3 linked regions of the Homo sapiens genome follow. The protein of the gene in region 3 interacts with the protein of the main gene of each other region in a pairwise test. Each region holds a gene or a part of one and is shown on either strand. Other genes may lie near its edges. The genes, in order: LTA4H, ZNF287 and TMEM62.

Region 1 (2,168 bases), on a different chromosome or scaffold from region 3:
TAAATATCCATGATTACTTTTGTTTGCTTTTCATTTACTTCACAAGTATTTAGGTGGGTGCAAAAGTAATTGCAGTTTTGGCCATCAAAAGTGATGGCCATATAATATCATAAAACTTGGCAAAATAAGTCATTATCTCTTTTTTGATGTGACCACAAAATTAAGTTTTAAGTATATTTTATATGCTTTCCCTAATTAAAACCCATCTAGCTTTGAATTGAGTAAAGTATACTTTAAATAGGTTTTTAAATAAGAGTATACTTGGGCCGGGCGCGGTGGCTCACGCCTGTAATCCCAGCACTTTGGGAGGCCAAGGCAGGCAGATCACGAGGTCAGGAGTTTGAGACCAGCCTGGCTAACATAGTGAAACCCTGTCTGTACTAAAAATACAAAAAATTAGCCAGGTGTGGTGGTAGGCACCTGTAATCCTAGCTACTTGGGAGGCTGAGGCAGGAGAATCGCTTGAACCCGGGAGGCAGAGGTTGCAGTGAGCTGAGATTGCGCCATTGCTCTCCAGCTCCTCCAGCCCGGGTGACAGTGCGAGACTCTGTCTCAAAAAAAAAAAATGAATAAAATAAATAAGAGTATACCTTTTGTGGGAAAAATAAGTATTTCTGTTTTATGATGTTTATAGTAGTTACATTAAAAATGACTAATCCTACCTTTTGTATGGTAGGTCCTTTTTATTTAGTGTATTTATTATTTATTTCGTGTATTATTTATTATGTATTTATTATTTCACTGTGGTCAGGACTTTTATTCTCAATTATTTGAAGTTTTCAGAAATTCTATATAAATTTTAGTGTTTTCATACTCTTAAAATCTTGATTAAAAAATTTTTTTTAAAAGCAGTTTTTAAAAAGAAAGGCTTTGAGGCTCACTCTCACATACAGGGCTGATATTTAGCCAGGAGATGAGAGGACTCTGTTCAAATAATAAAATCCTTCCATGCTGCTTGGTAAATAGCCACGGGTCCCAGCCACTCTAGCCCTTCCCTGTAACTTGCTGCAAAATGTCTGATCTGCCAGTATAAAGGCCAGTCTCTGGTACAGAAGGAGGTCTCTGGGACCCTGTGGCAGGACCATACCCATCTGATTGGCTGGGACTGGTGCCTTATTTGGGTGATGCTGGCTGTCACCCCTGCTGACATCCTTTAATTTAATCTTGGGTATTGACTTGTGTTCTTATTCTCTTTCTCCTTCCTTTTTCCTTTCCTCTGAACCCCTTCCCTCCTTTCTTTCTTCTCTCCCTCCCTTTCTCCTCCTCTGTCTCCTTCTCGCCTTTCTTTCTTTTCAATTTTTTCTTTTTTGGCAGGGATCTTGCTGCCTTTGACAAATCCCATGATCAAGCTGTCCGAACCTACCAAGAGCACAAAGCAAGCATGCATCCCGTGACTGCAATGCTGGTGGGGAAAGACTTAAAAGTGGATTAAAGACCTGCGTATTGATGATTTTAGAGATTTCTCTTTTTTAAATGGAATTCGTAAAGAAATATAAAACTTCAGCTCACAATTAAAACTGTCTTTTTAGTTTTGGCTTTTTATTGTTTTGTTGGTGATTTTACTGAAATAAAGTTGAGCTACTTCTTCTTATAGTGGCATATTCTTTGTAAATTTTAACAAGGTTTAATCTTTTGATTTACAAATTAAAAAATTTTGAATTAGCTTTATATTAATTTTCTCTCAGTATGATCACAAAATATGTCAAGGTAGTATTTTACCTGATATATGATTTAAATTCATTAATTTGAATCTGCTGCAGATTCAAAAATTCAACATGGTTAGGATTTTGCTTTGCTTTTTAAATAACCTTAAACATAAGTCCGGGCGCAGTGGTTCATGCCTGTAATCCCAGCACTTTGGGAGGCCAAGGCGGGTGAATCACCTGAGGTCAGGAGTTTGAGACCAGCCTGGCCAACATGGTGAAACCCCGTCTCTACTAAAAATACAAAAATTAGCTGGGCGTGGAGGCACGACTGTAATTCCAGCTACTCAGGAGGCTGAGGGAGGATAAGCACTTTAATCTGGGAGGCAGGGGTTGTAGTGAGCCGAGATGGCGCCATTGCACTCCAGCCTGGGCAATGGAGACTCTGCCTCGAAAAATAAAAAATTAAAAAAAAACCTTAAACATGAATGCTTAGTTGTATTTGCACACCACCTACCTGGTGGA
Region 2 (3,744 bases), on a different chromosome or scaffold from region 3:
TACGAGATTGACCTCCACAGCCAGATGGATTTAGGTTTTGTTTCCCGGCTCTACCATTGGAACTGCAATTTGGGACAAGATACTTAACCTCTCTTAGCCTGAGTTATTCTACTCTCATAAATAGAATTTACCTCTTAGGTTGTGAGTATTAAATATTATGAGACTTGTAGTTAGCCTGGATTACAGTTAAGCAATTAATAGATGATTGTTACTATTATTTTTCCTCATTAACAAGTAGTTAAAGGCCATGCATTCTGTCATATTACTGTTGGTCATGAATTTATATATATTTTTTGAGACAGAGTCGCACTCTGTTGCCCAGGCTGGAGTGCAGTGGTGCGATCTTGGTCCACGGCAGCCTCCACCTCCTGGGTTCAAGTGATTCTCATGCCACAGCCTCTGGAGTAGCTGGGGTTACAGGTGCATGCCACCATGCCTGGCTAATTTTTGTATTTTTAGTAGAGACAGGGTTTCGCCATGTTGCTCATGCTGGTCTTGAACTCCTGACCTCAGGTGATCCACCCGTGTTGGCCTCCCAAAGTGCTGGGATTACATGTGTGAGCCACCGCGCCCGGCCATGAGTCTATATTATTTTAAAGAATAGTAACTCAAGATACCTTAAGAGAAAGATTTACTGTAAAAATATAACTGGTTTTTCTGAAATTGGAAAGCTTTTGGTAACCAAGTTAAAATGATTATTCATTGATAGTGTGAACATTTACCTGGAAAGCCTAACAAAATCAAGGGAAAAAGTGTTAGAAACACTAATAGAAAAATTGGATAAAATGACTACAGAAAATGACATGCAAAAATCAATCACTTACATATATATACTTATATATATATCTACATATATACATATAAAAATGAGATAAATGATAAAATGAAAAAAATGCCTCCAGTATCACACCCCCGAAAAAAATTTAAAATATCTAAAACTAAGCATAATATAAATATTGCAGTACTTTCATGTCTAATATTTTGTAGAACATGAAAGAAACCTTGAATATTATAAAGTCATCAGTTCTCCCTAAGTTATAAACTTAATACAATTTTTAAATCCCAGTATGATTTAAAAGAAAAGATTTTTTAAGAGATGGGATCTCACTATGTGCCCAGGCTGGTCTTAAACTTCTGGCCTCAAAGTGATCCTCCTGCCTTGGCTTCCCAAAGTGCTGGGATTACAGGTATGAGCCACTGCGCCTGGCCTCCAATATGACTTTTTTAAAGATACTGACAATTATATGAAAAAATAAACACGTGGCCAGGCGCAGTGGCTCACACCTGTCATCCTATCACTTTGGGAGGCCAAGGCAGCTGCATCACCTGAGGTCAGGAGTTTGGAGACCAGCCTGGCCAACATGGCAAAACCCTGTCTCTACTAAAAATACAAAAATTAGCTGGGCATGGTGGCGTGCACCTGTAATCCCAGCTACTCAGGAGGCCACTGCACTCCAGCCTGGGCGACAGAGCAAGACTCTTTCTCAAATAAAAAAAGAGAAAAAAGAAACATGTAAGATAATACTATATTTTTAACAAAAGGAGCAAACAAGAAAAGCACTAACCTTACCAGATTGTGAAATGTATTTAACAGTGCAGCAGTTCAACACTGTGATTATTGGTATCTGTTATATTTTTAAAAAGAAAGACTGAATTTAACCATAGAACACATAAAAATATCTTAACATTTTAATTATAACATGTTGGATTTATTCTTAAAGCACAGCTTGAAAAGCAAAACCATTCAACTGTGTCATCTGTGTTTAAAATTTAAAACTCAAGTCAGGCCTGGTGGATCACTCCTGTAATCCCAACACTTTGGGGAGCTGAGGTGAAGGATCGCTTGAGTTCAGGAGTTTGAGACCAGCCTGGGTGGCATAGCAAAACCCCATCTCTACAAAAAAAAATTAAAAATTAGCCAGATGTGGTGGTGTGTGCCTGTAGTCCTAGCTACTCAGGAGGGTGAGGTGAGAGGATCACTTCTGCCCAGGAGTTTGAGGCTGCAGTGAACAATGATTGTACCATCGCACTCCAGTCCAGGTGACCAGGCAAGACCCTGTCTCTTTTAAAAATAATGATAATAAACCTTTTCCTTTTAAAAATGGAGCTGCCAGCAATGCATGCACTAGTCCAGCACAGGCAACAGAGCGAGACTCTGTCTCTTTTAAAAATAGTAATGATAAACCTTTTCTGTTTAAAATGGAGCTGCCACCAATGCATGCATGAGTGCTAAGTGAAAATAAATTCTGATCTATTTTCAAACTTCCGTTTAGGGTCATGGAGAGATGCTGTAGGGCTGTCCATATGTCAGGGGAGGGTTTTGACTAGACAACTTCTAGGATCCTACTAAAGCTTAAAATTCTGTGACAGTCCCCCACCATACATATACCCAGTGTTATCAGTGTCCCCTTTGCCATTAGTTCTTGAACTGAGTTAAGTTACATTTGATATTTTAGGAATCGATGACATTCAAAGATGTGGCTGTAGACATCACCCAGGAGGACTGGGAGTTAATGCGTCCTGTGCAGAAGGAATTATACAAGACTGTGACGTTACAGAACTATTGGAACATGGTTTCTCTGGGTAAGGATCATCTGCATCCCTCCTCCTCCGAGCCTGTTCCCATTAAAAATGGGTTGGTCCTCAGACATGCTTGGCTAAAAATGGGGTCCAGAAATAAATGTTCTTATCTCATTCAAGCACGAAAGTGACTGTTTTACTCCCGTTTTCCAAATGAAAGGTTCTTAAGTGAGAGAACATTGGCAACTGATGCACAGCTTCATAGTGCTGCCACCTGATGCTGCCTTGCCCAGCCTTTGCTACTCTAAGGGAATGTTTCTTCCTTCACATATCCTCTTCAGTGGCAGGAAATTGTTATCCTGTCTCTGAAAGGATAACAATCAACAGCCTAATTCTCTTATTAGATCATGTCCATGAACTATTGTTTTCCTACAGAGGTCTGTTCTCCCAGATAGGTAGAAGTCTGGTAATAAAACTTTGAGCAACCATTTATCTCCAGGATAAAATTCTTTATATTCCTCCTGAACAGGACTTACAGTGTACAGACCAACTGTGATTCCCATATTGGAAGAACCATGGATGGTGATAAAAGAAATTTTAGAAGGCCCTAGTCCAGGTGAGAAACAAAAAGCGCATGAGCTTCTTTGTATTTAAGAATCTATATCCTAAATGTGGTGAGAAATGCATTTTAAATATGACCAGGTCACTTTTTGCAAAGGCATTCTAGCCTGTGAAGAACACTGAGCTGTTTGGCATTGCTTCCTTACAGAGGCCTCTTCAGGAAGAGCTTCCTAACATCACTGTTAACACACTTTTCCCGTGTCTCTTCTCATTTTATCCTTCTACATGACCTCTAGGTCCCATCTCTTAAGAGCTTTGTCTAGGGCTTTCATTGTGCCACTTTCCCCTTCCTCTAGATTTAAACATGTATGAATGCCCCCTAAAAATTTAAATGTTAAACCTTCTTCTTTTTGAGTTTCTTTTATTCTGTTCACTGACAAATCCCTACATCCCCCTGCCTTCACTTTTCTAAATCATCCCTTTCTTTTTTATTTTCTAATTATTTAAAAAGATAATATATTCACAAGATTCAAAATGTTTAAAAGTATATAAAGCAAAAAAAATATATAAATATATATAAATGTCCACCTGAATACCACATTCACCCAGTTCCTACATCTCCCCAGCATGTGACCGCTGTCATAACAGCATGTCAATGAACCA
Region 3 (3,744 bases):
CAGATAAAAGGACCTAAACTTTACCTGCCCTTATAAACACTTAAATTGTGTTAGTTACAATAGAATAATTTTTAAAAACAGTATATTGGAAATATTAGGCTAGGCCTTGTTGTAGATGCAGATAAATCCAGAAATATCAGTGGCTTAACACAAATGTTTTTCATTTGTATAAATTCAATATGAGTCAGAACAACTCTTATCCATGGGATGAGTCAGTAATTCAGACTTCCTCCATCTTAAAATTCCTATTTCGACATGTCGATTCCAGGGCAGGGAAGAGAGCAAGGAGAACTCACACCCACTCTTAAGTACTTTGGACCACAGGCATGATATGTGTCACTTCTCTTCACAGCCCATTGGCCAAAACTAGTCACATGGTCCCAACCTGATACCAGGAGACTGGGAAATTCAGGGGAATGTGTAGAGAATTTCGTGAGCACTATTGTTTCTGCCATAGTGAATCATTTCTTTTTTTAGTTCTAAAAGTTAGAAAATATAAAACTTTGGTTATTCTTTAATGAATATTTTATACCTTTTGTTATTGCATTTGGAAAATGAAAACAACTTTAATTTCTTTGAAATTATAGAAATAAATGTTTAATGCTAGGCATGGTGGCTTACGCCTATAATCCCAGCACTTTGGGAAGCCAAGGTGAGGGGGATCACCTGCGGTCAGGAGTTCGAGACCAGCCTGGCCAACATGGTGAAACCCTATCTCTGCTAAAAATAGCCAGGTGTGGTGGCGGGCACCTGTAATCCCAGCTACTTGGGAGGCTGAGGCAGAGGTTGCAGTGAGCCAAGACTGCGCCACTGCACTCCAGCCTGGGTGACGGAGTGAGACTCCATCTCAAAAATAAGAAAAAAAAAAAAAAAAAAGAAAGAAAGGTTTAAAAGAAGCATGAAAGATTTCTAATTTTGTTCATATCAACCATTTTAATATTTTATGTAGCATTGTTGATGGGATGAAGAATGTCAAGTATTAGGGTTATAATAAATATTTTAGGTTCAAAATTGTCTTAAAGTACAGGGATAAGATGAGTTACTTCAACAAGTATTTATTTAAAAATTAAAGAGTACATGCCGTGTACCAGGTGTTGTTCAAGAGCACAGTTGAATCCATTGCCCAGTCAGAGGCAGTTATGTGACAAATGTGAAGGATAAAGTGATGGGGTAAGGGAAGAAAGAAAGAAAATATTACTTAATCTGTATTCAAATTAATCATGTAAAAAAGTCCTAGTTATGTATTTTTATATTTGTTCTGTATATTACCTTCATGACCTCTTACAATGTGAAGTGACTAAATTACCTTATCATTATCTGGTCTTTAGGTACCGGATTTTTGCTTTTGATCACGACCTCTTTAGCTTTGCAGATTTGATCTTTGGGAAGTGGCCTGTGGTTCTTATCACCAATCCTAAATCACTCCTTTATAGTTGTGGTGAACATGAACCACTAGAAAGACTTCTTCACTCAACACACATCAGGTATGTAGCAATTTTTTAGAATTTACTTTCAGTTTGATAATGAAGGAGAATAAGTCATTGTGATTGCATTCCCATGTGAAAGCTATGAGATGCCCCATTTTAGTTTTCTCAACAACCTAAACATTATATAAAGATAGATTGCTTACTGTTTTGTTTCCATTAAGTTAAAAAGCATATCATTTTTTTAAGCTGATGAAATTTTAAAAACCATTCAGAAATCTATAATTCTACCATTATTATTTTTGTTTTATTTTATTCCAGCCTTTTTATTTGGACGCTTTTACATTGCTATAAGCATAATGTACATATTCCTTTATAGTCTACTTTTTAAAATTTGCATTATATATCAAATTTTTTTTCATTTGTTATGTAGCCTTCTAAGAAAGCAAAAGCTATATATATAATCCTTATGGAATTGAAAATTCAGTTGGCAAATGAATTTGTTTTGTTTTGTTTTGTTTTGATTTTCGACAGAGTCTTGCTTTGTTGCCCGGGCTGGAGTGCAGTGGCCTGATCTTGGCTCACTGCAACCACTGCCTCCCGAGTTCAAGCTTTTCTCATGCCTCAGCCTCTGGAGTAGCTGAGATTACAGATGTGTGCCACCACGCCTGGCTAATTTTTGTATTTTTAGTAGAGAGAGGGTTTCACCGCGTTGGCCAGGCTGGTCTCGAACTCCTGACCTCAAGGGATCCGCCCTCCTACGCCTCCCCAAGTGCTGGGATTACAGGCTTGAACCACCATGCCTGGCCATGAATTTGATTATATAGATTAATAGAATCCAAATGGGACATTAACATTCTTTTTGCAAAGAGATATATAACTTGTTTCAAATGTAAGAGCACTTTTTAAAATATACTTTTACAATTTATTTTGAAAAGTAATACAATAGAACAACCTTTGGAAAATAGGGTAATGGGATTTTAAGTATGTTTTTCTCCACTTCTAATAGAACTATTATTAGCACTTCTGAGTATTTCTTCTCAGGCATTCTCTCTTAAGATGTTTTTATATAATTATAATCATAAGGCACAGTCTATTCTAATTCCTGATTTGTTTTCTTTCAGCACAAAGAATGTACCACAGTTTTTCTAACCATTTTCATATCTCATTGGTGAACTTTTAAGGTTTTTCTTATTTGTGGATGAATATCTGGTACATATATATTCTTCCTTCACTTGAATAATTTCTTTAAGAAAGAGTTCTAGAAGTGGGATTCTAGGTGAAAGAATTTGAATTCTTTTATGACTGTTGATAAAAATTGCTCAATCCCTTTTTTTTTGGAGCTAAAATCACTATTTTTAATCATGGTAAGCATGATTAAACAAAGTACACATGGCATAAAATGTACCATTTTAACCATTTTCAAGTGTACAGTTCAGTAGCATTAAGTTTGCTTCAAGTTTACATTGTTTTGCAACCATCACCATTATCCATTTCCAGAACATTTATCATTTTCTAAAACTGAAACTTTTACCCATTAAACAATAACTTCCTGTTCTTCCCTCTCCCACAGCCCCTGGCAACCACCAATCTACTTTCTGTCTCTATGAATTTGACTACTCTAGCTAACTCATATAAGTGGAACCATTCAATATTTATACTTTTGTGACTGGCTTATTTTCATTTAACATGATGTCTTCAAGGTTTATACATGTTGTGGCATATGTCAGAATTTCCTTCCTTTTAAAGGCTGAATAATGTTCCATTGTACATTGTGTGTGTGTGTGTGTGTGTGTGTGTGTATATACACACATATGTATACACACATACACACATACCACATTTTGTTTATGTGTTCAATGGACACTTGGGTTGCTTCTAACTTTTGGCTATATTGAATAACGCTTCTATGAATATGAGTGTACAGATAACGGTTCAAGTCCCTGCTGTCACTTCTTTTAGATATATATCCAGAAGTGGAATTGCTGGATCATATGGTAATTATCTGTTTAATTTTTTAAGGAGCTGCCATACTGTTTTCCATGGTGGCTGCACCATTTTACATTCCCACCAGCAGTGTATCAGGTATCCAATTACTTTCAACAACAGATGCTAATTTATCATATTACCAAGCAATATGAATGCCAAATTCACAATACTCTTATTATTATTGGATATTATGCTTTAAAAAGTATTTACTAATTAACTTGTAAAAAATGGTACCAAGATGTTTACATTTATTGTTTTCATCACTAATGAAATGGAACACACATGTGTCAGTCAGGTTTTTTGGTGGGAGCTGGATATCAGGTTTAGGTGT

What was found.
Region 1: the proteins of TMEM62 (region 3) and LTA4H interact in a two-hybrid assay, tested with the Homo sapiens proteins (one large-scale study listed by BioGRID and IntAct).
Region 2: the proteins of TMEM62 (region 3) and ZNF287 interact in a two-hybrid assay, tested with the Homo sapiens proteins (one large-scale study listed by IntAct).

The regions. Positions count from the first base shown.
Region 1 is NC_000012.12:96,000,253-96,002,420, reverse strand, and holds the end of LTA4H (leukotriene A-4 hydrolase), read left to right. Parts: intron 1-1,314; coding exon 1,315-1,432; 3' UTR 1,433-1,668; downstream 1,669-2,168. UniProt on the Homo sapiens protein: Bifunctional zinc metalloenzyme that comprises both epoxide hydrolase (EH) and aminopeptidase activities. Acts as an epoxide hydrolase to catalyze the conversion of LTA4 to the pro-inflammatory mediator leukotriene B4 (LTB4).
Region 2 is NC_000017.11:16,562,538-16,566,281, reverse strand, and holds part of ZNF287 (zinc finger protein 287), read left to right. Parts: intron 1-2,456; coding exon 2,457-2,583; intron 2,584-3,049; coding exon 3,050-3,136; intron 3,137-3,744. UniProt on the Homo sapiens protein: May be involved in transcriptional regulation.
Region 3 is NC_000015.10:43,150,462-43,154,205, forward strand, and holds part of TMEM62 (transmembrane protein 62), read left to right. Parts: intron 1-1,328; coding exon 1,329-1,484; intron 1,485-3,446; coding exon of another isoform or gene 3,447-3,540; exon of another isoform or gene 3,541-3,744.